Linked DNA regions of Homo sapiens: all the other regions are linked to region 2. The links come from fine-mapping of genetic effects on gene expression. A gene starts in region 2. Each other region holds a variant in brackets. All regions are shown on one strand. Distances are between the middles of the regions.

Region 1 (6,392 bases), 350 kb after region 2:
TGTTAAACAGGGTCACAATGAATTATATCCTGATTTTTTAGCTAAATTACAAGATGCTGTTGAAAAATCTGTCTCTGATGAGCACGCTCAAGGTATTCTTCTTCGAATGTTAGCTTTTGAGAATGCGAACCATGAGTGTAAAATGGCCATGCATTCCGTCCAACAACAAAATTTACCTGATCGTGAGGTGTTGCCTGAGTATATTAAATATGAAGGCATTGGATCAGACACAAAGCTATTCTGTGCCCACAAAGCTATTCTGTGGGCACGGGCCATGAAGGACGGCAATCAAACTGGCTCGACTGATTCTTTTCTTGGAGCCTGCTATAATTGTGGTCAACTTGGTCATACTCGAAAAAATTGCACAGTTAAAAACTTAAAGGCAGCCAAGCCGGCTCAAAAAACACAGCCAAATGCTCCTGCTACTGTTTGCCCTTGTTGTTGTAAAGGTAAACATTGGGCAAGTACTTGCCACTCTAAGTCTGATATAGATGGAAATCCCTTGCCACAGAACCAGGGAAATGGGAAATGGGGCCAGTCCTAGGCCCCAATTTCAAATGGGACACCTCAGACTCAGACGAATGTTGCCTTTCTGCTTCAATCGGTCCCAACGCAGCCCCCAGCACAAACAAATTTACCTACAGCCAACCCAGATGTGTCCCAGCCTCTTCTTCTGTCTCAGTACAACGCTTATCTATGCTCCAGAGTAAGGGGAGGGGCGGTCAATCTCTGTAGTACCATTCCTCTAAATTTACTACCTAATTCTTTGCCTTTAATTCCCAGACCAATACCTGGAAACCTGGAACGATTATAACATGGGGAAGAGGGTATGCTTGTGTTTCACCAGGAGATCATCAATCCCCTGTCTGGGTGCCCACTAGAAGACTTAAACTTCATGTGAATACTGACAATAAAAACCACAGGGAAGAGACGTCCACGTCAGAGACCACCCTCATACCTGGTGAGATCTGTGCCAACTCCTCAGAAACTGGCACGCCAAATCAAAATGGGTCTGGTTCAATCCTCCCTAATGGCAACAGAAACCCCTCTAACTAATCCCACTTCTCCTAATTCCCTTTCTTTTTCTCCTTACGAACCTAAAAATCTCACCATTTCTATTAGCCTGAAAATAACATCCCCTTATTCTTCTATTCCTCCTTCAGCACTGGATCTTGCTTACAATAGGTTTTATTTAATAATTCTCTTCCTTATACTTTCTGTCTCACCAGTTTCCCCTCACATTGATTTACCTGCTACACAAAATTATTCTTGCTGGGCTTATGTGCCTTTTCCTCCACTTATTCAACCTCTCACCTGGATGGATGCTCCTGCGGAAATCTATACTAATGATAGTGTGTGGATGCCTGGAGCTACAGATGACCGTTGCCCCACTCAACCAGGAAAAGAAGGCACTGCATTTAATGTTCCTACGGTTATAAATACCCTCCTCTGTGCCTCGGACATGCACCTTGTTGTATCCATCTAGAAACTCAAGTCTGGGCTGCGTACCTTCTGGAGAGATCAGCCACAGGGGAACGGGGACATTTGGTCTCCAGCCTCTCCCTTTCTCCTTTAAGACAAATGAAAGGGGGAGTAATAGGAGATACCCCCTACTTTCAATATAAACCTGTAGGAAAACCATGTCCTAAAATTTTTGAGGGCCCATCTAAATCTTTAATTTGGGAAGATTGTGTTAATTCACATGCAGTACTATTAAAAAATGACTCATATGGTTTAGTAAGAGACTGGGCACCAAAGGGCTATTTGAAAAGCAGTTGCTCTTCTGCTGGAAGGGAATGCCTGGAGGCTACTTGTTTTATTTCTTATTGGGAGGACGAGGATCATCATCCTACTTTGCATAGGAGGTTCAGCTCATTCTGTCCCTTAAAATGGGAAGATAAGAGCATTACCCCCTGCCACCCGAGGCCTCTTATGATATCCCCCATTCTGAGCCCAGAACACCCAGAACTTTGGAAATTGGCTATTGCCATGTCCAGACTGCGAGTATGGGAAGGGGAAACTTTTCTTTCTGTTGTCCCCACTACCACCCCTCACATCCGTGATTCTGAAACCCATGATAAATCCCCTTTGGACCATTTTCCTCTTTTTGATGCCAGTCCTCCTTTATGGGACTCTGATTGGCATTATGATAATTCTTCTGGACCCAGGTATGTCCCCCTACCTCTTCAGAATCCCCGGGCACCTCGGATTGCTTCTTTACGGCATCAAACATTGGGCGTTGCCACCGCCACTCCTCCCCCTCGGTATCAACGTAGATTCAAACATTCTGCTTTGTTTACCTCCAGCCTGACTATTATACAGAGTTGTGTTAAGCCTCCTTACATGCTGTTAGTGGGAAATATCAAAATTTGGATGAACAATCAAACCGTCCAATGCATTAATTGTCATTTATCCACTTGTGTTAACTCCCGTTTTGACTCAGGAAAAGTGTAATGTTGGTTCGAGCTTGAGAAGGAATCTGGATACCAGTAACTTTACCCAGAACTTGGGAATCTTCCCCCTCAGTACATTTAATTAATGAAGTGTTACAACGAATTCTCAAAAGATCAAGAGATTTGTTTTCACTTTAATCACTGTGATCATGGGCCTAATTACAGTCACTGCACTGGCCACCACTGCCGGAGTGGCATTACACCAATCTATTCAAATGGCTAATTTTGTTAATGATTGGTAAGGCAATTCCACCCAAATGTGGAATCCTCAACAAGGCATTGATCAAAAATTAGCTAATGATTTAAGACAGTCTGTTATTTGGCTTGGGGACCAGCTAATGAGTCTCGAACATCACATGCAAATGCAGTTCGATTGCAACACTTCTGATTTCTATAGCACACCATATTCCTACAACGAGACTGATCATGGGAAATGGTCAAAGGACACCTTCTGGGTAGGGAAGATAATTTATCCTTGGACATAACTAAATTAAAGAAACAAATTTTTGAAGCCTCTCAAGCTCATTTATCCATTGTGCCTGGAGCTGAGGCGTTAGATCAGGTGGCAGAAAGTCTTTCTGGACTAAACTCCACAACTTGGATTAAGTCTACTGGGGGCTCCACTGTAGGAAATTTTGGAATCATGTTTCTCTGTTTAATCGGCTTGTTTTTAGTGTGCCAGACCAGTCAAAGAATCCTGCATCAAAACCGAGAGAACGAGCAAGCCTTCATCGCCACGGCACATTTATATAAAAAGAAAGGGAGAGATGTTGCGGGAAGTCAGGGACCCTGAATGGAGGGACTGGCTGGAGCCATGGCAGAGGAACATAAATTGTGAAGATTTCATTTTAATATGGACATTTATCAGTTCCCAAATAATACTTTTATAATTTCTTATGCCTGTCTTTACTTTAATCTCTTAATCCTGTTATCTTTGTAAGCTGAGGATGTTTGTCACTTCAGGACCACTGTGATAATTGTGTTAACTGTACAAATTGATTGTAAGACATGTGTTTGAACAATATGAAATTAGTGCACCTTGAAAAAGAACAGAATAAGAGCAATTTTTAGGGAACAAGGGAAAACAACCATAAGGTCTGACTGCCTGCAGGGTCGGGCAGAAAGAGCCATATTTTCCTTCTTGAGAGAGGCTATAAATGGACATGCAAGTAGGGAAGATATCACTAAATTCTTTTCCTAGCAAGGAGTATTATTATTAATACCCTGGGAAAGGAATGCATTCCTGGGGGGAGGTCTATAAACAGCCGCTCTGGGAATGTCTATCTTGTGCAGTTGAGATAAGGACTGAGATACGCCCTGGTCTCCTGCAGTACCCTCAGGCTTACTAGGGTGGGGAAAAACTCCGCCCTGGTAAATTTGTGGTCAGACCGGTTCTCTGCTGTCGAACCCTGTTTGCTGTTGTTTAAGGTGTTTATCAAGACAGTATGTGCACCGCTGAACATAGACCCTCATCTGTAGTTCTGCTTTTGCCCTTTGCCTTGTGATCTTTGTTGGACCCTTATCAGTGGTTCTGCTTTTGCCCTTTGCCTTGTGATCTTTGTTGGACCCTTATCGGTAGTTCTGCTTTTGCCCTTTGTCCTTTCCCTCAGAAGCATGTGATCTTTGTTAGACACTTATTAGTAGTTCTGCTTTTCGCCCTTTGAAGCATGTGATCTTTGTACCTACTCCCTGTTCTTACACCCCCTCCCCTTTTTGAAACCCTTAATAAAAACTTGCTGGTTTGAGGCTCAGGTGGGTATCACAGTCCTACCGATATGTGATGCCACCCCCGGCGGCCCAGCTGTAAAATTCCTCTCTTTATACTGTCTCTCTTTATTTCTCAGCCGGCTGACACTTATAGAAAGAACCTACGTTGAAATATTGGGGGTGGGTTCCCCCAGTACGCTAGTCCTGCT[G/A]ATGAGCAAAGAAGGTGTTGATGGCATTTTGATCAACAAGAAATGTTATGAAACGGCCTCCCACCTCTGGCATTCCTAGTACTGACCTATCTCTCCCTTCCCTTCCACCGCTCCCCACAGCTTAGCACCCCTTTCGTTCCCATACACATGTACATTTTTATTTTGGGGACCATTAACCCACAGCCCTTATCGCTGCCAAAACCACATGGGCTGGAGGGCCAGGGCTGCATGGACAGTCACACCACTGCACACCAGCCTGGTGATGGAGCAAGACTCTGAAAAAAAAAAAAAGAAGCATAAAAGACCTTTAACAGTCCCTGCTACTTGTGACCCTCCTGAATCTGTCATCTGTCCAGTGATTTTGATTTTGCAACATGGAAAGTTCCAAGCCTTGACTCCTGAGCCCAGATACCATTCGCACTCTGGAGTCATTCAAGCATGGGGAGCTCCTCAGAGGGTGATCAACTGACCTCCCTTACCTAGCTCCTCCTCCGGAGGTTTGCCCTGGAGTTGAGCCAGCCCTTGAGGAGGCCTTCACTCCCACCGCCTCTCTCCCTTCTGGATATGAGCTCAGGCCTGGCTGGGCTCCAGGAGAATCTTTCCACAAGGCAAGAGATAACACAAAGTCAAGGTGAAGATCAGGGTAGCCCTTTAAAAGGCCTCCTTGTGCCCTAGAGTTGCCACAGCTCTTCTACTCCACTGCTGTCTATCTTGCCTGCCGGCACCCAGCCACCATGTGGGAGCTCGTGGCTCTCTTGCTGCTTACCCTAGCTTATTTGTTTTGGCCCAAGAGAAGGTGCCCTGGTGCCAAGTACCCCAAGAGCCTCCTGTCCCTGCCCCTGGTGGGCAGCCTGCCATTCCTCCCCAGACACGGCCATATGCATAACAACTTCTTCAAGCTGCAGAAAAAATATGGCCCCATCTATTCGGTTCGTATGGGCACCAAGACTACAGTGATTGTCGGCCACCACCAGCTGGCCAAGGAGGTGCTTATTAAGAAGGGCAAGGACTTCTCTGGGCGGCCTCAAATGGTAAGTGGTGCCCATCTCCTCCCTGCCCCCTTCACCACCCCCTGGGATTGTTCAGGTCTTCAGACCATGCCTAGAATGGGGCTTCCAGCTCCAACAACCTGTAATTCTTCCCAAAGTAGACTAGTGGGATGATGTGAAGGGAGTGAACCTTCAGACCCCCACCCAGCCTCTAAATTAGGCAGGAAGAATTAAAGGAATGTCTCCTCTACCAGGCTGCCCAGGAGGTGGGATGGGAGGACCACAGTGGTCTGAGGGGTCAAGGAATCCTCACTCCACTCCTCTCTCTGAGCCTAGACTTCTCTAATGGACTGAGAAGGTGCATGTACAGCACTTAGCCTAGCACCCAGCACAGTAAGTGCCCCTTATACAGCCAGGATTCATGTTACTTTTCATGGAAAATGGGGGCAGTGACTACTGTCCTCCATGAAAGCTGCTGGGGAGAATTAGCCTAGCTATTGCAGGCTGGGATTGCTGCTTTCCTGGTGCTATTTCCAGCTACTCAGGCTCACAGGGGCAGTTTTCTACAATGACATTTCAGGGTTGCTGATGAGCCTCCCACTCAGCAGGGCCCCCAGCCTCTCAGCATTTTTTTTTTTTTTTTTTTTTTTTGAGACAGAGTCTCTCTCTGTCGCCCAGCCTGGAGTGCAGTGGCCAATCTCAGCTCACTGCAACCTCTGCCTCCCGGGTTCAAGTGATTCTCCTGCCTCAGCCTCCTGAGTACCTGGGACTACAGGAGCATGCCACCATGCCCGCTAATTTTTTGTATTTTTAGTAGAGATGGTGTTTCACCATGTTAGCCAGGATGGTCTCGATCTCCTGACCTCGTGATCCTCCCACCTTAGCCTCCCAAAGTGCTAGGATTATAGGCGTAAGCCACTGTGCCCTGCCAGCCTCTCAGCTTTGATCAAGCCAAGGGTTGGTTTATTTTTTCTTGGACCAATCAGCCAGGTCTGCTGACCAACTACCTAGCTCCCACCTCTGCTGGCTTCCTC
Region 2 (6,490 bases):
TTTTTGTGTTTTTAGTAGAGACAGGGTTTCACCACGTTAGCCAGGATGGTCTCAATCTCCTGACCTCGTGATCTGCCCGCCTCGGCCTCCCAAAGGGCTGGGATTACAGGCGTGAGCCACCGCGCCCGGCCTCATTCTTTTTATTATTGATTTGTTAAGAGTCCTTTATAGACAAATCCTTTGTCTTTTGTGTATTGCGAATAGTTTTCCCCTTATTCTGTTATCTTTTAACTTTGTTTTCAGTTTTTTTCAAGTTATTCCATCTCTCTGATTTTTTAAATTCTTTTTTCTGATTTATTTTTTAAAACAAAGTTCTTGATTATAAAAGTAATACAAACACCGTAAGAAATTAATACAAAAGTACAAAGAAGAAACCACCCCATCTTATCACTGAGAGAAAACAACATAATCAATTACATATTTCCCTGTAGTCTTTTGCGTGTGCAGTTTTTTTTCACAGTTGTGATCACATTCATTTGTGTGTGTCTCTATATTTGTTTTTCTCTCAGTACCATAGTGTTTAGACACAAACCCTGGCCTTTTTTCGTTTCTTCTTTTTTTTTTTTTTTGGAGATGGAGTCTCCCTCTGTCGCCCAGGCTGGAGTTCAGTGGCGTGATCTTGGCTCACTGCAACCTCCGCCTTCCGGGTTCAAGCGATTCTCCTGCCTCAGCCTCCCGAGTAGCTGGGACTACAGGTGCGTGCCACCATGCCCAGCTAATTTTTGTATTTTTAGTAGAGATGGGGTTTCGCCATGTTGGTCAGGCTGGTCTTGAACTCCTGACCTCAAATGATCCACCTGCCTTGGCTTCCCAAAGTGATGGGATTACAGGTGTGAGCTACCACGCCCCGCCACCCTGGCCTTTTTTCAAATGCACTTGGTTTAAAGATTGTGTTATGCCAGCTTCCAACCCCTATTCCTCTTTTCCATATATCCTGAGAAATTTAGAAGGTGAGGGGCCCAAGGTCTATCCTTAGCTGACCTGAAGCGAAGTTGGCTGAGAAGCACAAGAAGGGGTAGAAGTGCTCTGGCGGAGCACTTATTAAAAAGACGCGGAGGTTTTGGTTGACTGCAAGCCCAATATGAGTCAACAGTATGGGTGCCAAGAACTTTATCGCAGGAGTGCAAAGCGATAGGTCCCAAAAGGAGGAAGCTATAGTCCTGCTTTGCTCTGATGATACCACAAACATTTGGTTCAGTCTTGGGTGATGTATTCTAAAGAAATCACAGTCAAATCTACCATTTGCGTGAGAGGGATAAAGACCCTCAAAACCAGGGCAGAGGAGGAACAATGGAAGGAACGGGAGACACTGATGTGGAATGAGAAGACCTTGGGCAGAGGTGATAGAAGTAAAGTATCTGAAAAGTCAAAGGTCCAGGAGAGATTAGACGTTTGTTCTCTGTGGCTCCAAGGCATCGAATTTCGGCCCTGAGAGTGGAAGTTTAGACACATTTTCTCACTGGTGAGAGCTGCTCGGACCAAGGAATTCAGTCCTCTGGAAATAGCTAGCTGCTTTTGCGGAGTCTTCCTGCTGAGTTGCTGGTGGTGGGGTGAACATTTATTGAGTGCTTACTGTGTGCCAGGATCCTGCTGAGGGCCTCACCTATATTGTGTGATTTCATCCCGTCAACACCCTTTGATGTGGGGACTGTTGTTCCCTATCCTGGTGCTACAAATGTGGGCACCAGGTATAGGAGGTCAGGTACCTCGCCCGAGGTTACAGTTTGTAAGTGGTGGTACTGGGACTGGAACTCGTTCTGACAAACTTCAAAGCTGGTGTTTTTAGCCATCAAGGGGATTCGAGGGTGCCATGGGGGTGTGGACGCATGAGGGGCCTTGAGGTCCATTAGACCAAAACATTCTGTGACTGGGAAAAAGGATGCCCTCTCCTCCCAAGGAAAAGCTTCTTCTGAATGAGACACAGTGGAGAGGTTAGCCCAGGGCCAGGCTGAGGGGCGCAGGCAGAATGCCAAGGGATGGAGACCCTCAGAAGGGCAAAGCCGGTGTTCCATCGTTTGAAGATCTCCAGACCCGCGGGACAGACAGACGCAGCGCGGTCAGGGAGCGTCGGCTTCGCCGAACTCTGCGGCGGAGCTGGGGGACGGAACAGCGCGCCGGTCCCTGGCCGGGCGCGAGCAGAGGGGCGGCGCGGGGCGGTGCCGGGCGGCGGGGGCGGGGAGGGCGCGCGTTGAGGCGGCTGCGGCAGTTGCGCGCTGGGATTGTTGCGGTGCGCTGGAGCCGGTGAGTGCGGCGGGCCCCGTGGGCGGGCGGGGAAGGAGCGGGCGAACGGGGAGCTAGGTGGGGAGGTGCGCGGCCGAACACGCGACCCCAGGGTAGCGGCCGCCGCCTGCCCCCGCCCCCGGCCCCCAGGGACCATGGCCCCAAGGCCCCTCTCCTTAGGCCGAGTCCCCGCCAGCGCGCTCGCGGACGCCGCACGCCTCCCAACTCCCTCGGTGCGGCCCCCGCCCCACGGCAGCCCCTTCCTCCGCGCCGCCGCGACGCCTCCGGCCCACGTCACGCTCGCGCCATTGTTTCCCAGCCGCCGGCTCGCTGGGACCCCGCCTCAGCCTCCCAGCGCGGCCGTTCGCCGCGTTCCGCCCTCTTCCCCCCTTTCCTCACGCTGGTGGTAGCCCTTTCCTCAGTCCTGCTGACGTCCTCCAGCTGATTCCAGGCTGTTCCCGGCCACCCCTGAGGCCGTCTTTTCGCTTCTTGTAAAAGCCTCCCCGCCCCCAGAGCTCCTCGGTCGCCTCCCGAGAAGCCAAGGGGCCTCTGGTGGAGCGCCAGGTTGACAGCGTTTTAGCAGGACCGCGAGAAACGGCCAGCTCGTTTGCCACACGCCCGTGTGCAACACTTCCTGGAAAGGTCACAGCGAATTGCAAGCCGCCACAAAAAACATCCGGACAGCTCCTGGTCAGGGGGCTGAGCCGTTCAGTGGCGGCCTATTCTTCTCCTTTTTTCGGGGCTCCTGAAATCGGAGAGGGCGAGATGCCGATCTGAGGCCTGAACCCTTAGTTTAAGAAAAACGTTTTGGGGGTTTGACTCCGGCAGGCCACAGCTTCTAAAAGCAGCAGGTAGAGGCTGCTGTCCGAATCGACGTTTTCCTGGGCTTTCACCTTTAGGGCCTTGATGTTTGAGGGGGGTCGTGCTCTGAAGTACAGCGCCCCGAAATGACTAGTCACCATTACAGGGGGGTGTGTGCGCGCCCGTCCAGGGGCCGATGAGTTCTTCAGGATTGAGCTGTACTTGGTTCCCAGTGTCTGTAGACTATTCATTTCGCCTCTTCAAGCAACGAATGCAAACTACTGACCATAATGTGAAAGGGAGAATATTGAAACTGTGTCATTTACCATGAAAACTTAGTGTTATTGCGTAGAGAAGGCTTTAGGTTTCAAAAATATTTACCACATGGCTTTTCAACAACGGTTAGAATTTATCCAGATGAAGACATCCAGGCCTGAAAGGGTGAAGTTCGAAAAGAGAAAAAAAATAGGTGTGAGCTGAGAGTGGAAAAAAAAAAAAGAACAAAAAAGGTTAAGTTCAAGAAAACATAGCTGGTTAGTAATTAAAATAAAAACTCCACATGCAGGGTTGATACTAGCATACACAGACTTATTTCTGAAGTGCATTTCCATTGCAGTGTAAACCACTACATTTCAACAGTATAGGTAGCTGCATTACTCTCATTGACCCAGAATTAAGGTTTTAGGATTTAGTAACCAACAAATCTGTAAAATAAGGTGGAGGGGCGCGGGGTGGAGTGGGGGGGGTTCTGAAGGAGATGTTATGCAAGATTCCTTTCAGTTCAAAGGTTTGATGCCATTGTATGAAAATTTACCATCAGCTACAAGTTTTCAGAAGTTTGTAATTGTAAGAAGATTTATATAGATAGTATTCCCTTATAGTACCTGCCACCCTTAACCAGAAGACATCACATCTTCCTAAAGAAAGCCAGATTACAATAGAATGTTAGGCACAGAGGTGCTCATTAATCTTTCTCTAGGCTATTTCTCCTGTTTTATGGGGAAAGAGGAGTACATAAAACACAGGTTTTTTTTTTTAAGTATTTCCTCTCTCTCTCTTTTTTTTTTTTTTTTGAGACGGAGCTTTGCTCTTGTTGGCCAGGCTGGAGTGCAATGGCATGATCTTGGCTCATTGCAACCTCCACCTCCCGGGTTCAAGCAGTTCTCCTGCCTCGGCCTCCCGAGTAGCTGGGATTACAGGCATGCGCCACCACGCCTGGCTAATTTTGTAGAGACGGGGTTTCTCCAAGTTGGTCAGGCTGGTCTCGAACTCCTGACCTCAGGTGATCTGCCCGCCTCGGCCTCCCAAGTACTGGGATTACAGGCTTGAGCCACTGCGTCCGACCCTGTTGCTTAATTCTCTTACCAAAAGCTTAATTCAGTGAAATAGTAAATAACAACAAATCCCCAAAAACAAAAACCCACAACTTTGTCATGTTATGACTGTGCTCTTTTAAAGTACTTACATAGACTGGTTTTTATCTAGTACACTTGCTGTGTACATATTATTTGGGATTTTGCTCTTACCAATATTTCTGGGATGTCCATGTATTTAGAGAATTCATCTAATCTTCATTAGTAGATGCTCTCTAATGTGCCCCGGTAGTCAACAATGCCTGGCACACAGGCTCTTAGTAAATTTTTGTTGAATAAGTGTTGTAATGTTTTGAGGTTTTTAGACATTTAACACAAAATACTAACTATCACAAGGCATATGTTGAGTGACGTGAGCAGTAAAGGCAGTCATACTTTCAGCCAGGAGACATTGCATTTATTTAAGGGCCCGGATTTTGTAGTCTGGCTTGCTACTTAACATCATGCAACCTCGGGGAACTCAGTTAACCTTAGACAAGCTCACTCAGTTTCTCTCACCTTGAGAAGGGAAAAATAGAACAAATTTTACAGAGTTATGTGGATTAAATAGAATAATTCAGTTGAAGTGATACTGGCACACATTAAGTTCTCTATAAATGTTAGTTTTTTTTGCTCAGAGTGAAGGAATATTAATGTAGCTTGGTGGGATCAGGAAAAACAGTAACACTTCAGAGTAGGGAGAAGATGCTGAAGTGGATGTATTGAGGGTATGATTAATAGATTGTTCTCACTAAAAGGGTTTGGTAGAGCAGTAGTCTGAGATAAAACTGGAAAGAGAAATTCTGGTAAGCAGTTTACAAGTATGCTACATGGATTCTTTGCAATTAGAGCGGAGTGAATGACCACCTGAGGTCAGGAGTTTGAGACCAGCCTGGCCAACATGGTGAAACCCCATCTCTACTAAAAATACAAAAATTAATCAGGCGTGGTAGCGCATGCCTGTAATCCCAGCTACTTGGGAGGCTGAGGCAGGAGAATCGCTTGAACCCAGGAGGCGGAGGTTGCAGTGAGCTGAGATTGCGCCACGCACTCCAGCCTGGGTGACAAGAGTGAAACTCTGTCTCAAAAAAAAAAAAAAAAAAAAAGAAAGCCACAAAATTAATGCGGCAAACCGGCCAGGTGCGGTGGCTCACGCCTGTAATCCCAGCACTTTGGGAGGTCGAGGCAGGTGGATCACCTGAGGTCAGGAGTTCGAGACCAGCCTGGCCAACATGGTGAAACCCCGTCTCTACTAAAAATATAAAAAATTAGCTGGGCGTGATGGCGCCCACCTGTAGTCCCAGCTACTCAGGAGGCTGAGACACGAGAATCGCTTGAACCTGGGAGGCAGAGGTTGCAGTGAGCCTATATCGTGCCACTGCACTCCAGCTTGGGCGACAGAGCATCTCAAAAAAAAAAAATTCAGTAAACAGTAAAAGAAAAAAGTTAAAAAAATTATGACAGTCTTAATCTTTGTTTTTTTTTTCGTTTTTTTTTTTGAGATGGAGTCTCGCTCTGTCGCCAGGCTGTAGTGCAGTGGTGCGATCTCGGCTCACTGCAGCCTCCGCTTCCTGGGTTCAAGCGATTCTCCTGCCTCAGCCTACCGAGTAGCTAGGACTAAAGGCGTGTGCCACCACGCCCAGCTAATTTTTGTATTTTTAGTAGAGATGGGGTTTCACCATGTTGGCCAGGATGGTCTCAATCTCTTTACCTCATGATCCGTCCGCCTTGGCCTCCCAAAGTGCTGCGATTACAGGCGTGAGCTACCACGCCCGGCCCTTAATTTTAATTGTTAAAATTTGATAAAGAAGGTGGGTAGTAGACATATCAAATGATCATTATATTATTTTCTGTGTGTTTGAAATATTTCACAGTATTTTAAGATGAACCTAAAATAAAACATTAAAGAAACTCCATTAAACTAATGAGCCTATAAAAATATATATCCCACTGGGCATCTGTAATGAAAACATGCTAATACTCAGCAAGCTTACTGATTTTTTTTTTTAAGCCGTTAAATTTCAGGCATCAGATTTCAGTCTTCTCTTTCCAAGCACATAGTACAAGCAGGCTCTTTCATCCCACACTCTTTTTTTTTTTCCGAGACGGAGTCTCAC
Region 3 (6,511 bases), 250 kb after region 2:
TGCCTAGAGTACCTGTGGCACTCAGGAAACAGCCAGAGGTCACTGTAGCTGCTGGAGGAGTAGGAGATGCAGCCAAAGAAGGGGCCATATCCCATGGGACCTTGCCAGTTGTATATGATCATTTTTTTTTATGCTGGCTATTTTGACTTGTTAAAAGACAATATCAACTGGGCACAGTGGCTCACGCCTGTAATCCCAGCACTTTGGTAGGCCAAGGCGGGCAGATCACTTGAGCCCAGTTGTTTAAGACCAGCCTGGGCAACATAGCGAGACCCCATCTCTACTACGTAATTTTTTATAAAATAAAAAATAAAATAAAGACAATATCATATTACTGTAATTATAAGAGGTTTTTAACAAACTGGTAAGATGAAAGTTATGTTTAAGGAAGATCAGCCTGGCAGAGGTATGCTTGATGAAACAGACAATAAAGAAAGCCATCTTGGAAGTTTAATGATAATCAAAATAGACTGATTCATGCATTAATTTAAAATGTATTTCTAGGCTGGGCGCAATGGCTCACACATTCTGTATCACCCAGATACAGAATGGAAAAGAGTACAAATTCATATGTAATCCCAACCCTTTGGGAGGCCAAGGCAGGTGGATCACTTGAGGTCAGGAGTTTGTGACCAGCCTGGACAACATAGTGTGAAACCCCATCTCTACTAAAAATATAAAAATTTGGCCAGGCGTGATGGCAGGCACCTGTAATCCCAACTACCTGGGAGGCTGAGGCAGGAAAATCACTTGAACCCTGGAGGTGGAGGTTTCAGTGAGCCAAGATAGTGCCACTGCACTCCAGCCTGGGTGACAGAACGAGACTCCATCTCAAAAAAATAATAATAAAATAAGGACCAGGCGCGGTGGCTCACACCTGTAATCCCAGCACTTTAGGAGGCCAAGGAGGGCGGATCACGAGGTCAGGAGATCAAGACCATCCTGGCTAACACGGTGAAACCCTGTCTCTACTAAAAATACAAAAAATTAGCCAGGCATGGTGGCAGGCACCTGTAGTCCCAGCTACTTGGGAGGCTGAGACAGGAGAATGGTGTGAACCCGGGAGGCGGAGCTTGCAGTGAGCCGAGATTGCGCCAGTGCACTCCAGCCTGGGTGACAGAGTGAGACTCCATCTCAAAAAATAAATAAATAAAATAAAATAAAACAAAATGTATTTCTGGAGCACCCAAAACATAATAAGCACAAATAAGAGGGGCTAAGGGCTGGCACTGTAGCAGTGGGAATGGAGAGAAAACAAAAAGTAAAAGATGCGTTTTCAAAACAGATCAATTATGTTTGATAACAATATACAGAGGGGAGGCCAGGCGCAGTGGCTCACACCTGTAATCCCAACACCTTGGAAGGCCAAGGCAGGCAGATCACTTGAGGTCAGGAGTTTGAGACCAGCCTGGCCAACATGGTAAAACCCCACATCTACTAAAAATAAAAATTTTTAAAAAAGAAGATACAGAATGGAAAAGAGTATAAATTCATATGTACTTCAAGTTACCTGAGAGCAGGAAATCTGTCTAATTCCTCTTTGGCCGTCTCCTACATGGCGGTTTTTTTTTTGTTGTTGTTGTTGTTGTTGTTTGTTTGTTTTTTGAGATGGAGACTCACCCTGTCGCCCAGGCTGGAGTGCAGTGGCGCGATCTCAGATCACTGCAGCCTCCACCTCCCGGATTCAAGCGATTCTCCTGCCTCAGCCTCCCGAGTAGCTGGGATTACAGGTGTGCGCCACGCCCAGCTGATTTTTGTATTTTTAGTAGAGACGGTGTTTCACCATGTTGGTCATGCTGATCTTGAACTCCTGACCTCAGGTGATTCGTCCATACCAAAGTGCTGGGATTACAGGCGTGAGCCACTGCGCCTGGCCGCCAGTTCTTTATTATGATGCTAAATACATGCTTATGGATTAAAGATGAGTCAAAGAAAGTCTTCTCAAGATGGAAAAAGAACATGGAAGGAGACATAAGGACAAAATCTTGGGGACTGCTCAATTAGAAATGGAAGGGAAAATCAAGAACCTAAAAAGAAAAAGGAAGCAGTCAGAGAAACAGCAGGAGCCAACCTGAAGAGTGGTCCTCACCTACAGCTAAAAACAGTAAAGGGGCCAAGCAAGAGAGGAAAGGTAACAACCAAGATGTAGATGTGGCAATAAAAGAAGTCATGGGTTGTAACTGTTTGAAACAAGATTGTAGAGGATTAAAGATGGCAAGGAAAAGGAAGTAACTAGCTATTCTTGAAGAAATCTTGCAGTAAAAAGAGAAAGGAAAAATAGACAGCTAATGATCCCCTAAGACATAGAACTCTGCCAGAAATTAGCCTCTGATCCTGCACTGAAGCTAAGTAAGCCTTAAGGAAATATTTACAACCTTCAACCTGGCTGGGATCCTCAAACAACTAGGCAGGTTGAATGAATACAGGAAAGATCCTACCTACACCATGTCTGAAAAAGGCAACAAATCTTCGAATTTGCTACTCATACCTGGTTTGGTAAGTGGCTTTGGGAGGTCACAGATAAAGTAATAACTGCTGACTTTTTGGATATTTAGGTAATGTGAGATAAATCAGCTTAAATCAACTAAGGGCCTTTGTCTGCTTGTTTATTTTAGTCTCCATAACTCCTATTAGAGGCTCTCCTCAAATATTCAGAGATCTATCGCTGTCCATTCATATTTCAGAGGAAAGCATTAAAATGCTGGCTGGAAGTTCTGTGTCAACTGATGATCTTCACTCTACAGTAATCAGGTCAAAACGCTGGTATATTTTTAATATCAAGGAACTCAGTAAAAATTAAATTTAACTGTCTAATAGGCATAGGACTATTTAAGAGCAATGCCATCTGTAAGTAAAGGAAACATCGATTTCTCTCCCTAAAATGTTTAATTTTTTTAGAAAGTTGGCTAAAGGAGTAGAGGCGTTGTCTTTTTTTTTTTTTTTTTTTTTTTTTGAGACAGGGTCTCACTCTGTCACCCAGGCAGGAGTGCAGTGGCGCAATCCCATCTAACTGCAGCCTCTACTTCCCAGGCTCAAGCAATCCCCCTACTTCAGCCTCCTGAGTAGCCAGCATGACAGGTGTGTGCCACCATGCTCAGCTAATTTTTTCTTTTTTTTTTTCCATTTTTTGAGACAGAGCGTTGCTCTGTCACCCAGGCTGGAGTGCAGTGGCACAATCTTGGCTCACTGCAAGCGCCGCCTCCTGGGTTCAAGCAATTCCCCTGCCTCAGCCTCTCGAGTAGCTGGGATTACAGGTGCCCACCACCATGCCCAGCTAATTTTTGTATTTTTTTTTTTTTAGAAGAGATGGGGTTTCACCATGTTGGCCAGGCTGGTCTCGAACTCCTGATCTTGAGCAATCCACCTGCCTCGGCCTCCCAGAGTGCTGGGATTACAGGTACGTGCCACCGCACCCGGCCTAATTTTTTAATTTTTTTGTAGAGATGAGGTCTCACTATGTTGCCCAGGCTGGTCTCAAACTCCTGGGCTCAAGCCATCCTCCCAACTGGGCCTCCCAAAGTGCTTGGATTATAGGCGTGAGTCACTGC[G/A]CCCCACACATTGTCATTATTTTATGTCATTTTAACAGACTTTAGTAAAGGCACCTAAATGATAGCTAACTTATCCTATAGTTAAATTAAACGTTTCTGGGGTTGGGTGCAGTGGCTCATGCCTATACTCCCAACACTTTGGGAAGCCAAGGTGGGAGGATTGTTTGAGCCCAATAGTTTGAGACCAGCCTGGGCAACATAGGGAGAGCCTGTCTCTACCAAAAAAAGAAAAAAAAAAGGTTTCTGTATACATCCAGAAAAAGAACGAAAGAAAATCACATCTGTTTATCTGTCTGAGAATATGTACGTTTTAGGAGTATAATCAAACCAAATATTTGATCTTGTCTTGATCAAAGCTAAAAGGTCTTTTTATTTTAGCAAAATGTGTAAGATATACATTTTGTAGGCTTAATAGTCTGGAAACTATTAACTGAGCTTCAAGCACAGGTGGTTCAGAACACTCCTTTTATCTTTTTGTCTCCTTTTAATAATCAAGACTAGATTTACAGTGATTATTTATTTAGACAAAAGGAAGCACCAGTTTCCAAAACCATCATGTCCCCAAATAAGAGGTATCTTGGGATTATAGCTTTATGTTAAAAGTACAGATCTAGTTGGAACTCAACTACTTAACAAAACATTTTTTTTTTTTTGAGATGGGGTCTCGCTATTTTGCCCAGGCTGGGCTTGAACTTGCTATCTTCCTACCTCAGCCTCAAGAGTAGCTGGGATCATGGGGCACATGCCACCCTGCTGGCTTTCACCAAACTTTTATTTAATCAGGGCTATCATGTAAGTATAAAAAAGTTTCATTCCAGGCAGACTACATACAAATCTAAACAAACTGGATTTTTGTCACCTATTAACATGTTTTGAAAACAAATGTAACCCAAAAGCCTAAATTCCCTTATTTCTCACACAAAATGAATCTTACTAAGATGTCACGTGTGTACTCACACACATTACGGGCTTTAAAATACTACTCATCTTTCACCCCAAACAGTAAGAATCACAATGAGGAGGAAAAAATGGCATAAATGACAGCACAGCTGCACTATAGATAAAATATTCCACATTCTCCAAGAAAAAATACCTGTGAGTTTCATCTAAATACATTTCAATTCTGTACCTCAATGAGTGGTTCAGGTTACAAAACTTGCACTTTATTTTGATGGATTTGGTTTCCCCCAAACATTACAAAATACATGCTTTAAACAGAAAAACTTGGAGCAACACAGAAAAACATACTTCCTCCCCTAAACCCACCACATCAAAAGATAGTCACTGTTGGTTAATATTTTGGTAAATGTTCTTCTAGTTGTTGCAGGTTAATGTATGTATATATGAACAAGCAAATAAAAACATAAAAGAGCAAAACTAAGCAGAAGATGGTCCACAAAATATGATTAAAAGAGTATTTTAGCCAATTGACTTGTTTCCAGCAGAATCTCACCCCTCTCCACACCCAATCTCCCCCACCCCCATTGCACCAAAAAAAAAAAAAAAAGCAAAGAGTTTCATTTTGTCTCTTCTGTTTACCTGGAACCCCAAACCCTCAAGGATCAGACTGATGATAGCAAGATGAAAAGCAATGACTAAAAGGTAGGGTTTTTTCTCTGCTTAGTTATCAACTCTACAGAGATGAAATTATTCCTGCCAAACCTTACATCAAGGAGGTACACTAGTGACTAAAGGAAATAATCTTGAAAGAGATAAGAAAGCATGCTATCTTGTTCTAGTTGTTTTTAGTTTTAATTTTACCTCTGAAGACCTGCTCAAATATTTCCATCTCTTGAATGATTCTGAGGACTGTCTAAACCCAAACGCCACTCCGCAGAGGCTCCGAGTTGAGTCAGCACATTGTTTCTATGATTGCAGATGGGCAAATGGAAAAACTGAGGCTTTGCACACTCCCATAAAGATCAGATGATGCCCTCAATCTGTCTTTGCTAGCATGGGAAAACATTCTCCCTCTCAGATTACCAGCCCCCTACCCCCACAGCACCAAAAAAAAAACCAAAAAAACAAACAAAAAAAAACACCATAGAGTTTCATTTTGTCTCTTCTGGTCACCTGGAACCCAAAAACCTCAAGGATTATAGTGCTAGGCCGGGCGTGGCATTTCATATCGTAATCCCAACACTTTAGGAGTCCAAGGTGGAAGGACTGCTTGAGGCCAGGAGTTAAAGACCAGCCTGGGCAACATAGCGACACTTTGCCTTCTACAAAAAAAAAAAAAAAAAAAAAAAAGCCAGGTGCAGTGGAGTGTGCCTGTGATCACAGCTATTTGGCAGGCTGAGGCGGGAGGATCACTTGAGCGCTGCTAGTCAACCAGGGCTGCAGTGAGCTGTGATTGTGTCACTGCACTCCATCCTGGGCAATAGAGCAAGACCCTGTCTCAAAAAAAAAAAAAAAAAAATTTTTTTTTAAAGGACCATACTGCTCATAGCAGTAAGAAATGCAGAGTAACAGAAGTCAGGGTTTCTTCTAGTCTTTGCAAATAAAACCAAAGAAGACCCTTGATAAATTGATGTGGAGAAGAAAGATACTACAAAAGTTTTTTTTGAGATGAGGTCTCCTCTGTTGCTCAGACTGGATTGCAGAGGTGTGATCACAGCTCACTGTAGCCTTGACCTCCTGGCTCAAGTGATCCTCCCACCTCAACCCCCCAAGTAGCTAAGACCACAGGTGTGCACCACCACACCCATTTTCTTTTTATTTTCTGTAGAGGCAGGGTCTCCCAATATTGTCTAGGCTGGTCTTGAATTCCTGGACTCAAGCAATCCTCCCACCTCCCAAAGTTAGCGCTAGGATTACAGGCCACCATGTCTGGCCCAAAGTCTTTTTTTTTTTTTTTTTTTTTTTTGAGATGGAGTCTCGCTCTGTCGCCCAGGCTGGAATGCAATGGCGCGGTCTCGGCTCACTGCAACCTCCACCTCCTGGGTTCAAGCAATTCTCCTGCC
Region 4 (6,511 bases), 310 kb after region 2:
AGCAGCAAAGTTGACTAAATTTTATATTTCTTGTCCTCTAAATATTTTGATAATTTCTGGATTGATGCAGTGATGTTTTTGTTCCTTCTGTATTTATAAATGAAACACCTTTTTTTAGTGTTTCTAAACCTAAAATCTACTTGGTTTGAAGTCAAGTGGTTGGAACACTGTTTGACTTTTATTTGAAGCATGTTGTTGATTGAAAATTTCATTGAGGAAGTTTTCAATCAGTGTGATCAGTTTGATTCTGTAATGAGCACAGCACCTAATATTTTGAGGAGCTCTGTTTTGAGGACCAATGCTTAACGTGGACTTCGTTCATAAACAATATCCAATAGATTTGTTGACTTGAGGTCTGGTTTTTTTGTTGCTTTTTTTCCTAATAGAATTAAGAATTCTAATGTTGAAATTCTAATGTTGAAAAACTGCCCAAATTTGTATGGGACAAAGCCTAGAAAAGAGAAATGTAGATTGCATCATAATCTAAATCATGGTATGATAGGAAAGGGAAAGTTTTGGTGCCATAATCTCTCCTTTCACTGGTGTTGGACTTAAATCAGTTAAAATGTATTTCTGTACCACAATTTATGCTTCAATAAAAGTTTGTCTAGTGACATTCAGAAAAAAAAATAAAAAACAATAATAATAGAGCCAGAATTTGAACCCAGGTATCTGATTCCAAAGCCTGAACTTTTCCATTTTGAGAAAACAAATCTTACTATGCACAGGGCAGTAAAAATGCCAATTAGTGCCATCATCCAACATTAAAATTTCTTAATTCCTTGACACAATTAAACAATTGAAATACTATTGTACATACTCCTACTCTTTTCCATCCTACTTCTCTATAGCCCTATTAATCCAATGTCTGAATGAGGCTTCTTGTAAAAAGTTTTCTTAGGTGTGTAATGGTATTGTGATTATGCAGAGGGATATTACATTCCTATGGGACGCATGCTGAAATATTTAAGGGTAAAATGTCATAATATCTGCAACTTATTTTCAATGGCTCAGCAAATAAATATATATATATATATACACATATAAACACACAAACATGGAAAAATGTTCTCAATTGCTGAAATATAGGTAATGCCTATGTGGGTATTCATTGTACTATTAACTTTTCTGTATTCAAAAACTTCTTTTTTTTTTTTTTTTTTTGAGATGGAGTCTCACTCTGTTGCCCAGGCTGGAGTGCAATGGCATGATCTCAGCTCACCTCAACCTCCACCTCCCGGGTTCATGCAATTCTCCTGCCTCAGCCTCCAGAGTAGTTGGGATTACAGGCACCCACCACCACGCCCGGCTAATTTTTGTATTTTTATTAGTAGAGATGGGTTTTCGCCATGTTCGTCAGGCTGGTCTCGAACTCCTGACCTCAGGTAATCTGCCTGCCTCAGCCTCCCAAAGTGCTAGGATTACAGGTGTGAGCCACCGCACCTGGCCAAAAACATTTTTATAATAAATATTGAGGGCTGGGCACGGTGGTTCACGCCTGTAATCCCAGCACTTTGGGAGGCTGAGGTGGGCACATCACTTGAGCCCAGGAGTTCAAGACCAGTCTGGGCAACATGGCAAAACCCCATCTCTACAAAAAATACAAATATTAGCCAGGTGTGGTGATGAGTCTGTAGTCCTAGCTACTCAGAAGCCTGAGGTGGGAGGATCGCTTGAGCCCAGGAGGTCAGGCTGCAGTGAACTATGATTGTGCTACTGCACTCCAGCCTGGGTGACAGAGCGAGACCCTGTCAATAAATAAATAAGTATTGGGGAAAAAATGCTTTTTTACTCCACTTGAAACACACACATACATTTAAACACACACACAAACAAACCAACACCAGAAAAATGGGAGGCAATGCAAAGTCAAGAAAAGATAGCTGGAGCAAGGGCAAGAGCAGAAAGAATACCAGAAGTCATGGAAATTGTTTTATTTACCTTAAATGTAAAATTGGCATCAAACATTAGTTCTTTTTCATGTCCTGTAATTCCTCCATTGTAAATAACTTGGCATCTCTTGGTTGGTCCTGTCTTAGAGTGTTTGAAGAGGCGAAATGTTGCAGAAACAAAACGACAGTCACCTAAAAATAGAATTTATTCACGGTTCATCTCCAGCACTCCCCCAGTTGTTGCCTTGCTCAGCAGACAAGGAGCAAACACGTTATAAAGATGATTTTCTTCCTTGCATGTCATCAGTTATCTTTCTGAGCACTTCACTCTATTTACTGAATGACTTCAAAGTGCTTTATTAAATATCAAAATTTTTGGGGGGTTACCATTGTACAGGAGGCAAGATAGCTATTTCCAGATAACAGAAAGTATCCCTCAATGAGACTCCTTCAGAAGTTACTTACTAATCACCACATTTCAATCATTCAAGCTGTAGTTATAATAGTCCCTGCTGTCTGTCATATCTTACCGATAACTCTTTCCAGTTCCTTGTTTTGAATTGTAATGAGATTGGCAGTGACCAAACGTGGAGGGCAGAACCCAATTTTTTGAGCAAGGACAGCAAGTTCCTTCCAGTATAAAGCACCACCCAGACACTCACCTAAAAAACAAACAACAACAAAAAACCACAGACCAGCCAACACTTAATACAGTATTAAGGGAACTATTCTTCTATATAATTAATTAGGACATGGTATTAGTTAAAACATAGATCCTAGCAGTAGAAGCTAACTTGAGCATCCCTCCAAGGTCTAGAAAGCCATGGTTAAGACTGGGTGTGCTAGCTGATGGTCTCTAGGAACCATTCTTCAGGACACTCACTGGTGGATTGGTTCTACTCAGCTGCAAGCATAATATTCATGTATGCAGTACGCCACATTCTGAAAAGCACTGTTATGTGAATAAAGTAGTATAAAAAATAAATCATAGGCCGAGCGCGGTGGCTCATGCCTGTAATCCCAGCACTTTGGGAGGCCGAGGTGGGCAGATCATGAGGTCAGGTGTTGGAGACCAGCCTGGCCAACACAGTGAAACCCCATCTCTACTAAAAATACAAAAATTAGCTGGGCATGGTGGCATGCACCTGTAATCCCAGCTACTTGGGAGGCTGAGGCAGGAGAATCACTTGAACCCGGGAAGTGGAGGTTGCAGTGAGCCAAGATTGCGCCACTGCACTCTAGCCTGGGTGACAGAGCGAGACTCCATCTCAAAAAAAAAAAAAAAAAAAAAAGAAGTTATCACTGGGTTATATGATTATAAGTAATTTTTTTAAGAGATAGGGTTTTACTATGACACCCAGGCTGTACCTGAACTCCTAGGCTCAAGCAATCCTCCTGACTCAGCCTCCCAAATATCTGGGGTTACAGGTGTGTGCCACTGTGTCCAGCTTAGTAATTTTTTCTTTTTTTTTTTTTTTTT[TG/G]GCACTTTCCAACTTGTTAACGGTACCTATTTATTATTACATAGTAAGAATAAAGTTAATATTATTTTAAGAATAAGAACTTTTGATTTCATAGACTGATGAAAAGCATGCATTTATCTCAACTTCCAGACTATTAAAATGATAATAAAGGAATAAAGAACACAATAATGATGAGAACATAAGGGGACTAAGAGGACACCAGCTTGGGAACAATTGTCCTCATTTCCACACTAGAGTTTTCAAAGTATTTTTCCCATTCTTTATCCCATTTAATCTTCATAACAGCCCTATAAGGCAGATTGTATTATTATTTACATTTTACAATTTGGAAAACGATAACTCAAAGAGATGAATTAAACTATCCAAAGCCCTATCACTTTTGAATGGCAGAGGAAGAATGGAACCTTGGCCTCATGGCCTAACCCCATGTGATCTCATATAGCCTCATCCTGGCTATTAGCAGAAAGGAGTTCTGCACATGTACAACCATCTGCCTTAATACTAAACTAAACAAAATCACCTACCCCATAAAACTTTGTGTGTCCTGATTTCTTCTGGCAGTTCAAGGCTCGTATAGACGTCACTGAAATATAACTCCCCACCATGCTGAAACAGAGGCATATTAGTCCAAACAAGATGATTAATGATTACATTGACCCCACATAACAAAGAAAGGAATAGGGGAACAAAATCAAATTTAAAAATCAATAGCAATGTTTAAGCTGACCCTTTGTGAACAAATAGCAGCTGCCTCTTTAGTTACAATCAATAGTCAAGTGCCAAGGTTTTTTTTCCTCCCAGTGGCTTATCCAACAGGTAATAAAATCACATTCTAAGAGTGTCTGTCTCCTAAATAAAGATTTTCAGGTTACTTACATTTAAATTTTTAGCCAATCTGAACCAAAAGCAGCCCCAGGTCATTGTAGAACAGAGGATATCATCAGTATTCATAATCTTTTATCTCTTAAGAATAGTATAACTTTGCCAGGTATGATGGCTCAGGCCTCTAATCCCAATGACTCAGGAGGCCGAAGTGGGAGGCTTGCTGGAGGAGAGCAGTTTGAGACTAGCCTTGGCAACACAGCAAGACCCTCTCTCCCATATAGAAATTTAAAAACTAGCTGGGCATGGTGGCATGTGCCTGGAGTCCTAGCTACTCAAGAGGATTGTTTGAGCCCAGGAGTTAGAGGGTACAGTGAGTGTCACTATCTGGACCCCTCTAACTCAGGAGTTAGAGGGGTACAGATAGTGACACTGCATTCCAGCCTGGGTGACAGCAAGACCCCATTTCTATTAAAAAATATAACTTTTTGTAATGTTGTTATTTACTTTTATAACAACACATTTTATCTTTAAAATATTATCCTTAAAATGTAAGGCAAATGAGTGATCAGGAACTTAACATTTTATTTAGCTAATTTCAAAAACCTGGAAACCTGGAGATCTAGATTCTATAATAGTGTTTCTACCTTTTATAAGTACATTTTTGGTGGAGATAGTGAACTGGCGTGTAAAATGACATACTAACAAAGACATCACTAAATCATTAAATCATTTCTATATAGATATTTGTATTTGAGTTCTATGACAGCTTTGTAAACCAAAAATCTCAAAAATCTGTTGTCAATTTAAAAAAAAATTTTGGCCAGGCACAGCGGCTCATGCCTGTAATCCCAGCACTTTGGGAGGCTGAGGCAGATCATGAGATCAGGAGTTCAAGATCAGCCTGACCAATATGGTGAAATCTTGTCTCTACTAAAAGTACAAAAATTAGCTGGGCATGGTGGCACACGCCTGTAGTCCCAGCTACTAGGGAGGCTGAGGCAAAAGAATTGTTTGAACCCAGGAGGCGGAGGTTGCAGTGAGATGAAATCCTGCCACTGCACTACAGCCTGGACAGCAGAGTGAGACTCCATCTCAAAAAAAAAAACATTTTTTTAGAGGCAGTGATCACACTATATTGCCCAAGCTGCACACAAACTCCAGAGCTCAAGCAATCCTCTTGCCTCAGCATCCAAGTAGCTGGGAGTACAGGCATGTACCACCCACCCAGCTAGAATCTTTTTTTTTTTTTTTTTTTTTTGAGATGGAGTCTCGCTCTGTCTCCCAGGCTGGAGTGCAGTGGCACGATCCTGGCTCACTGCAACCTCTGACTTCTGGGTTCAAGCTATTCTCCTACCTCAGCCTCCCGAGGAGCTGGGATTACAGGCACGCACCACCACACCCAGCTAATTTTTGTATTTTTAGTAGAGACAGAGTTTCTCCATGTTGGCCAAGCTGGTCTCAAACTCCTGACCTCAGGTGATCTGCCCGCCTCGGCCTCCCACAGCACTGGGATTACAGGTGTGAGCTACCGCACCTGGCTGAATATTTCATCTACTATCATGAAGATACACATCTCATGATACAATGAAGGCTGTGGAGCTCCTGCAAGCTTTCCTTTTAGCAAGTAGTTAATGTAAAAGTTCCATCTTCTGTAACTTCCCAAAGATCTGAAATCATGACAGATAAGAAATCAGAAGCCCTGAGAAACACTGTACATGCTAGAAGAGAGTATATTCAAAGCAATCATTAGTAGTCAGTGCAAAGATTCCTATAGCTCCACAGATGCTCTTCTAGGATCATGTACAGCAGCAAATAGGAGAGACAGTCAAGAAAGCAAATACCTTAACACATTCAGTGACAACTGTCACCTCGGATTTACTACCTTTTGCAACCTAAGAGGGAAAGTAATCCATATCCGGGGTATTCCTGCCCCTTCCCCCTTTTGCCACCCCTTATTCATTTAATGGATAAATTAAGAGAGTTTGAGCTCTTAGTTCAAGGGGGAACAAACAAGACTTAACCCATCAGCTCTTACTGATGTTCAAAGATAATTTATCTCACTCTCCTCCTCACCTTCAGCACCCGATATGCCTCCTGAAGCACTTGTTGTTTATCAGGCACAAGGTTAATAACACAGTTTGATCTAAAAGAGAACAGATGAAATGTCGAGCAAATCTTCACAACACTCAGAGATCTGCAAATCCTTTCAGACCCTAAAGGTGGTTCCCACCGTTCTGTCAAAGCTACCCCATTCTTACCGCCTCCCTCCTCTCTTTCTAATGCCTTCAACTAAGCTTTTCCCCAAGATCAGAG
Region 5 (6,511 bases), 210 kb after region 2:
GATGATCTCAATCTCCTGACCTTGTGATCTGCCCGACTTGGCCTCCCAAAGTGCTGGGATTACAGGTGTGAGCCACCACGCCCGACCTAAAAAATTTATATATATAAATATATATATAAAATATATATAAAAATATAAATATTTTAAAGACAGCTAGGCTGCTTTGATATTGTCCATTTAAGACCTAAAATTCCATAGTTATATAATATATAGCATATATTTTACTCCTTAATTATCAAAAAAGCAAAACACAAAAAAACTTGTCATTAATAAGAAATATAATATTTAGATCACACCTGAGCAAGGTCTTTTTTCAATCCTGGGAGGAAATTTCTAGTTCTATCACAATTTCCTGTCCTAACAATTAAAATCAATATCAAAGTTGAACAAACAATAAGCCACAAAATATGGGTCTCCTTTCAAATTATGAAAAGGCTGGAATTATTAAGTAGAACTAAACACCATAGAGTGGATGAAGTAAACTCATGTTTAAGGAATAGTTTTTAATATTCAGTTCTGTTCACTTGTCAGCTTTCTGTAACTTAGATTAGTTTAATTAATGTTAATTTTCCATACATTCCAAGATTTAGACTGTAATATAAGTTTATTGAATGCAGCACCAATGACAAAACTGTATTGCAACTCCATCACTAATTAGTTTAAAAATGTATTCTTCAACCACTCCTCTGAAATAACAATGAGTATCGTCATCCAATTCAGAACAACAAACATTCACATAAACAAGTAGGAACAGTCTTGTTTCCAGTTGCTTACAAGTTCCAGAGTCAAATTAATACACTCATGAAAACAATTACTTATATCGGAAAGCCCTAAAGCCACAAAGAACTAACTACCCATCAAAGCTTTACAGTCTTGATTACACAGGGGAATGCAGCTAGGCCGAGCAAACAGCCCAAAGCTGGGCCAGCTTCTCTCTCCTGCAAATTAGTAATGGTCTATGTTTTTCCTCTTCTCTGCCAAATCCTTGAAGAAGGAACACACTTCAAATACAAAAAGAGCCAATAAAAAGAACCCTAAAAATACCTTCTATTCCTGAGATCTAATCATTTCATTCATTTGTCTGACAAATATTTATTATGTACTCACTACTGCAGGCCCCAGGCTAACCCTATGCTGGACTGGGTTGCTGTCTTCAGTGGAGCTTAAGGTCTAGAGAGACAGACCAATATGAATCAAATAATATAGCCAGTGTGATAATTATGAAATAACAATAACCAAGTGCTAATAGTGAGATTTAAAGGAGAATCTTACCTAATATAAAAAGGCAAAGAACACCTCCTTGAGAAAGTGACGACTGTTTAGTCGTCTGAAGGATACTAAATATCTTAAATTTTTTCTCTGCACATTTGCATGGATAATTTTTCTGGTCACCAAATGACTATAGTTCCAAAATAGGATATTTCTGAATATGTAGTGGATATACTTCAAATGTAAGAAAAGCACTTATGCATTCCATTTGCCCTCCACTGTTACCATGAGAAAAGCACACCTTGGCTAGACCACTGGTCCTCCAAGAAAGATGAAACAAATGAAGAAGAGGCAGTCACCCTAGTCATTCCAACCAAGGCCATCCTAGATCAGCTAATAGCTGGCCAACCCTCGAGATCAGCAGAGCCTCCCAGCCAACTATCCTAGACATATGGCCAATAAACACTTACTATTATGTGCAACTGAGGTCTCTCAGTGATCTGAGATATAGTATTATGGCAATAGATAACTGATACACAAGATCAAAAAAAAAATTACCATCCCTGGTCAGGCGTGGTGGTGTATCCCTATAATCCCAGCACGTTGGGAGGCCAAGGCAGGCAAATCGCTTGAGCTCAGGAGTTCAAAACCAGCCTGGGCAACATGGCGAACCTTGACTTAAAAAAAAAAAATACCAAAGTTAGCCGGGTGTGGTGGCATGCACCTGTGGGTCCCAGCTACTCGGGAGGCTGAGGTGGGAGGATCACTTTTCTCTAGGAACTACTGGAGGATATGTTCTCCCAAGATAAGTGAGTAAACCAACAAAGATCCTGATGTGGGGATCCAGAGGTAAAAAATTTAATATAGGAAAAAAGAGGAAGGGAATTATTTGTTTTGGGGTTTTTTTTTGAGACTGGTCTCGCTCTGTCACCCAAGCTGAAGTACACTGGCATGATCACAGCTCACTGCAGCCTCAACCTCCCGGACTCAGGTGATCCTCCCATCTCAGCCTCTCAAGTAGCTGGAACCACAGGCACACGCCATCACACCTGGCTAATTTTTAAATTTTTTTTTGTAGAGATAGGGTTATGCCATGTTGCCCAGAATGGTCTGAAGTCCTGGACTCAAGCGATCACCTGTTTCAGCCTCCCAAAGTGCTGGGATTACAGGTGCGAGCCACCACACCTGGTGATGAAGGGAATTCTTAATTTGTGAAGGTAAGATTCAGGGCAACAGCAGTACAGAGCCAGCACAGGTTGGCAGTTCTAGGAGATGTGCTTCCGAAACAAGCTAAAGAACTGATGCATAACCTGATGTATTTACTTTAGAATTCCAGCAAAGTGTATGTGGATAAGCTGGTGATGTGAAGAAAAGTAAGCAAAGAAAAAGAGATTTATGAAGGATTCCAGGGAAGAAAAAAAAGCATGTGATCGCAATATGTTGATTGTATCATATGAACAATCTTTATGTAGTCATAATAATGTAAACACTGAACACATTGGTTTAAGATGAAAAGTTAGGGAACATTTCTCTAAGGAAGTGACATCTAAAGCACATCTTAAATCTGATAATTATAACAACAGGATAGAGGAAGAAAAGTATGAATGTGTGGTGTGGGGAGAGGGGAAATACAGAAAAGGAAAGTCCTTATCTTTCAGCGTAAGAGCCAACAAAGAAGATCTAAAACTGGGTTGGGCATGGCACCTCACACCTATAATCCCACCACTCTGGAGCCCAAGGCGGGCAGATCACTTGAGCCCAGGAGTTCGAGACCAGCTTGGATAACATGGCGAGACCCTGTCTC[T/C]ACAAAAGATACAAAAATTAGCCAGGTGTAGTGGTATGCGCCTGTAGTCCAGCTACTCAGGAGGCTAAGGTGGGAGGATCACCTAAGCCAGGAAGTTGAGGCTGCAGTGAGCTATGAAAAAAAAAAAAACCCACTAAAACTGAAATAAAATAGATAGCAATTTAACTAAAAGTTTAGAAATATCAAGTTTAATGGTATGAGAAAGAGATGAGGCTGGACGCAGTGGCTCACACCTGTAATCCCAGCACTCTGGGAGGCCGAGGTGGGCAGATCACTTGAGGTCAGGAGTTCTGAGACCAGCCTGGCCAACATGGCGTCTGAGACCAGCCTGCCAACATGGCGAAACACTTGTCTCTACTAAAAAATACAAAACTTAGCTGGGCTTGGTGGCACGTGCCTGTAATCCCAGCTACTTGGGAGGTTGAGGCAGGAGAATGGCTTGAACCCAGGAGGCAGAGATTGCAGTGAGCCGAGATCACCCCGCCGCACTCCAGGCTGGGTGATCCAGCAAGAATATGTCTCAAAAAAAAAAATAAAAAGAAAAGAAAGAGATGGAAGAGAACAAAGTAGTTAACTTTGGAGAGTAGGAATTAGAATGAGATAAGGAGTTGCTATTTTAAGCCCTGTGTCTTTTTCAGCTATGTTTTAATAAAAATTAAAATTAAGTAATTTTTATCAATTTTTAACCTCATTTGTCTTATTCTCCCCAAATTCTATTTTCATCCATTATGTCTATTACAACTATTTGTTTTATGTATTCATTTACTCACTCAACTATTTATTGGGCAACTATTAATGTCTACTGTTCTAGAGGATAATGGATACAACAATTAACAAAAAAACAAAGTCCCTGGTGGGTGGCGGGGAGACAAATGTTACACATATTAAACATAGACATGCTCAGTAGTAAGTAGTACGAGGAAAAATAATGCAAAATAAAGGGACAGAGATGAAAAGAATAGGCTATTTTACATATGTTAGTGACCTGTGAGCAGACATCTGAATTTAAGCAGGTAACATAGCTAGGTGGTATAACAAATGAGGTAGTGGGGGCAGCTAGCACAAAGGCCTGAAGATACGTGTGCTTAGCATGTTCAAAGAGAAGTAGGAAGACAAGTGATATGCCACTGTAAGAATTTCAGCTATTATTGAGTGAGTTGATAAACCACTGACAAGCTTTCAAACAACAAATAATAGGATTTAACAAATATTTTAAAAGATCACTCGCTGGGGTACAACCATTTTGGAAAATTATTTGGTAATACAAAGCCCGAACCCACACATACCTCATGAACCACAGATCCTACTCCTAGGTATATACCCAACATAAACACATACATATATTTGCCAAAAGACTCGTACTAGAATGTCCAAGCAGCATGATTCAAAATAGCCTAAAGCCGGGAACTATCTGAATGCCCATTAGCAGAATGGAAGAATGGATAAATAAATCGTGGTATATTAACACAATGTGATAGCACACAGCAATGAGAAGAAACCATTTACAATTTCATAAAACATCATGGATGATTCACACACACATAAGGCTGCATAAAAGAAGCCAGACTCAATACAGTACATATTGTACGATTCCATTTATTATAGATAAAGTACAAAAACAACAAAACTGACCTATGTTCTACAAGTCAAGGTGATGATTACCCTTGGGACAGGGACTGGAAGGCAGCATGAGTTGCTGGTCACATTCCGTTTCTTGCTCTGGGCGCTGGTCACACACAGGTATGACCAGTTTGCGAAAATTCACTGCAAACTCATAACATGTGCATTTTTGTGTGTGCTTATAAACATCAGTAAAGTTTTTTGTTTGAAAGATCACTGACTGCTGTGTGGAAAATAATTATAAGGAGGCAAAGATAAAACAGCAAGGAGACCAGCAAGGAGGCTAATGGTACAGCCATAATATGCTATAAAATGACAGGGGCTTGGGTGGTAGAGGTAGAGATGGTATGGAGTGGCCACATTCTGGAAATATTCTGAAGCTAGAGTCAGTAAGATTTCCTAACAGATTACACCTAAGGTTAAGAGAATCGAAGTCATAAAGGATAACATTCAGATTTTACCCTGACAACTGGAAAGACAGGACGGCCATTAATTAAAATAAGGATGATGGCAGCAAGTATAGATTTGCAGAGGGCGGGGAGAAGAGGAAAAAAAAAATCGAGTCCAGTTTTGAAAATCGTATGTTTGAGATGGCTCTAAGTGGAGCTTAAAAAAAAAAAAAAAAGTCCAGGCATGGTGGCTTACGTCCGTCATCCCAGCACTTTGGGAGGCCGAGGCGGGTGGATCACGAGGTCAGGAGTTTGAGACCAGCCTGGCCAACATGGTGAAACGCTGTCTCTACTAAAAATACAAAAAGTTAGCCAGGCGTGGTGGTGCATGCCTGTAATCCCAGCTACTTGGGAAGCTGAGGCAGGAGAATCGCTTGAACCCAGGAGGTGGAGGTTGTGGTGAGCAGAGATCACACCATTGCACTCCAGCCTGGGCAACAGAGCAAGACTCTGTCTCGACGACAACAACAACAAAATAGGTCCCAGGAGGAACTCAAAGACCAAGGAATGGTCTGGAGATTCTGTCTAACAGCATCATTCATCATTCCTCCTGTTCACCTACTTTCCTCACTTCCTCTTTTAAAAACAAAAAAAAGTAGACAGAGTCTCGCTCTTGGCTTACTGCAACCTCCGCCTCCAGAGTTCAAGTGATTCTCCTGCCTCAGCCACCCCAGTAGCTGGGACTACAGGTTTGTGCCACCACACTCGGCTAATTTTTGCATTTTTAGTAGAGACAGAATTTCATTATGTTGGTCAGGCTGGTCTTGAACTCCTGACCTCAGGTGATCCACCCACCTTGGCCTCCCAAAGTGCTGGGATTATAGGCATGAGCCACTGCGCCCAGCCAATAACACAATTTTTAAAAATTTTTTCACAAGGAAACTTAAGGATCCTTAGAGTATGTCCTCAAATCATAAGGGAACTACAATTTGAGAAACAAACTATTCCCAGTTGAAATACAGGTTGAGTATCCCAAATCCAAAATCTGAAATACTCCAAAATCCAAAACTTTTTGAGCACTGACATGATGCTCAGAAGAAATGTTCACTGGAGCATTTCAGATTTTGGATTTTTGGATTTCAGATGCTCAGCCAGTAAACATAATGCAAATATACCAAAACCTTTAAAAAAAAATCCAAAATGCTTGTTCCCAAACATACATACAAGGAATACGCAACCTGTACAAACATCCATGAGAGTAAATAATAAGAGCTTGTCACAATTGGGCCATCAGATGCTTTCCACTCTGCAGTCAGATGGGAATAGCTCTTTAGGACAATCAGTTTTACAGATGTTAATGTCTTTTCTAAAACTCTTTTTATTATGGGAAGAATAATACTGTGAGCCTCCCTGTACCCAATACCCAACTTGACCAATTATCAGCACATAAAGGTAAAGTGTTAATAGTCAAGCTGCATGATGTTAACAG

Direction of the effects. Positions count from the first base shown, and alleles are read on the strand shown. Sizes are in standard deviations (SD) of each study's normalised expression. Not every link is listed here.
In carriers of allele A in region 3, the expression in testis of the gene that starts at base 2,205 in region 2 tends to be higher than with G alone (moderate effect, 0.58 SD a copy in GTEx).

Evidence for each region.
Region 1: its variant is fine-mapped to the expression of NT5C2 in whole blood (TOPMed, PIP above 0.99).
Region 3: its variant is fine-mapped to the expression of NT5C2 in testis (GTEx, PIP above 0.99).
Region 4: its variant is fine-mapped to the expression of NT5C2 in naive CD4 T cells (Schmiedel 2018, PIP 0.94).
Region 5: its variant is fine-mapped to the expression of NT5C2 in blood mononuclear cells (TOPMed, PIP above 0.99).

Annotation. Positions count from the first base shown.
Region 1 is chr10:102,836,073-102,842,464 of GRCh38, reverse strand. It overlaps CYP17A1 (cytochrome P450 family 17 subfamily A member 1), which reads left to right and starts at 5,052. Exons shown (of 8, transcript NM_000102.4): 1 at 5,052-5,400. The coding sequence starts at 5,104. RefSeq lists a promoter at 4,813-5,092. The variant G/A (reference allele first, on the strand shown) is at 4,370.
Region 2 is chr10:103,188,987-103,195,476 of GRCh38, reverse strand. NT5C2 (5'-nucleotidase, cytosolic II) reads left to right here and starts at 2,205. Exons shown (of 19, transcript NM_001351169.2): 1 at 2,205-2,241. RefSeq lists a silencer at 2,111-2,390 and enhancers at 2,089-2,775, 2,776-3,464.
Region 3 is chr10:102,935,062-102,941,572 of GRCh38, reverse strand. The region is part of intron 1 of CNNM2 (cyclin and CBS domain divalent metal cation transport mediator 2); the gene reads right to left. Among named protein-coding and RNA genes, the nearest start is that of CNNM2, 20 kb to the right of the region's middle. The variant G/A (reference allele first, on the strand shown) is at 3,549.
Region 4 is chr10:102,874,422-102,880,932 of GRCh38, reverse strand. It overlaps AS3MT (arsenite methyltransferase), which reads right to left. Exons shown (of 11, transcript NM_020682.4): 6 at 6,272-6,341; 7 at 3,898-3,979; 8 at 2,423-2,554; 9 at 1,942-2,084. It overlaps BORCS7-ASMT (BORCS7-ASMT readthrough (NMD candidate)), which reads right to left. Exons shown (of 15, transcript NR_037644.1): 10 at 6,272-6,341; 11 at 3,898-3,979; 12 at 2,423-2,554; 13 at 1,942-2,084. Among named protein-coding and RNA genes, the nearest start is that of AS3MT, 8.2 kb to the right of the region's middle. The variant TG/G (reference allele first, on the strand shown) is at 3,373.
Region 5 is chr10:102,976,956-102,983,466 of GRCh38, reverse strand. The region is part of intron 1 of CNNM2 (cyclin and CBS domain divalent metal cation transport mediator 2); the gene reads right to left. Among named protein-coding and RNA genes, the nearest start is that of CNNM2, 62 kb to the right of the region's middle. The variant T/C (reference allele first, on the strand shown) is at 3,014.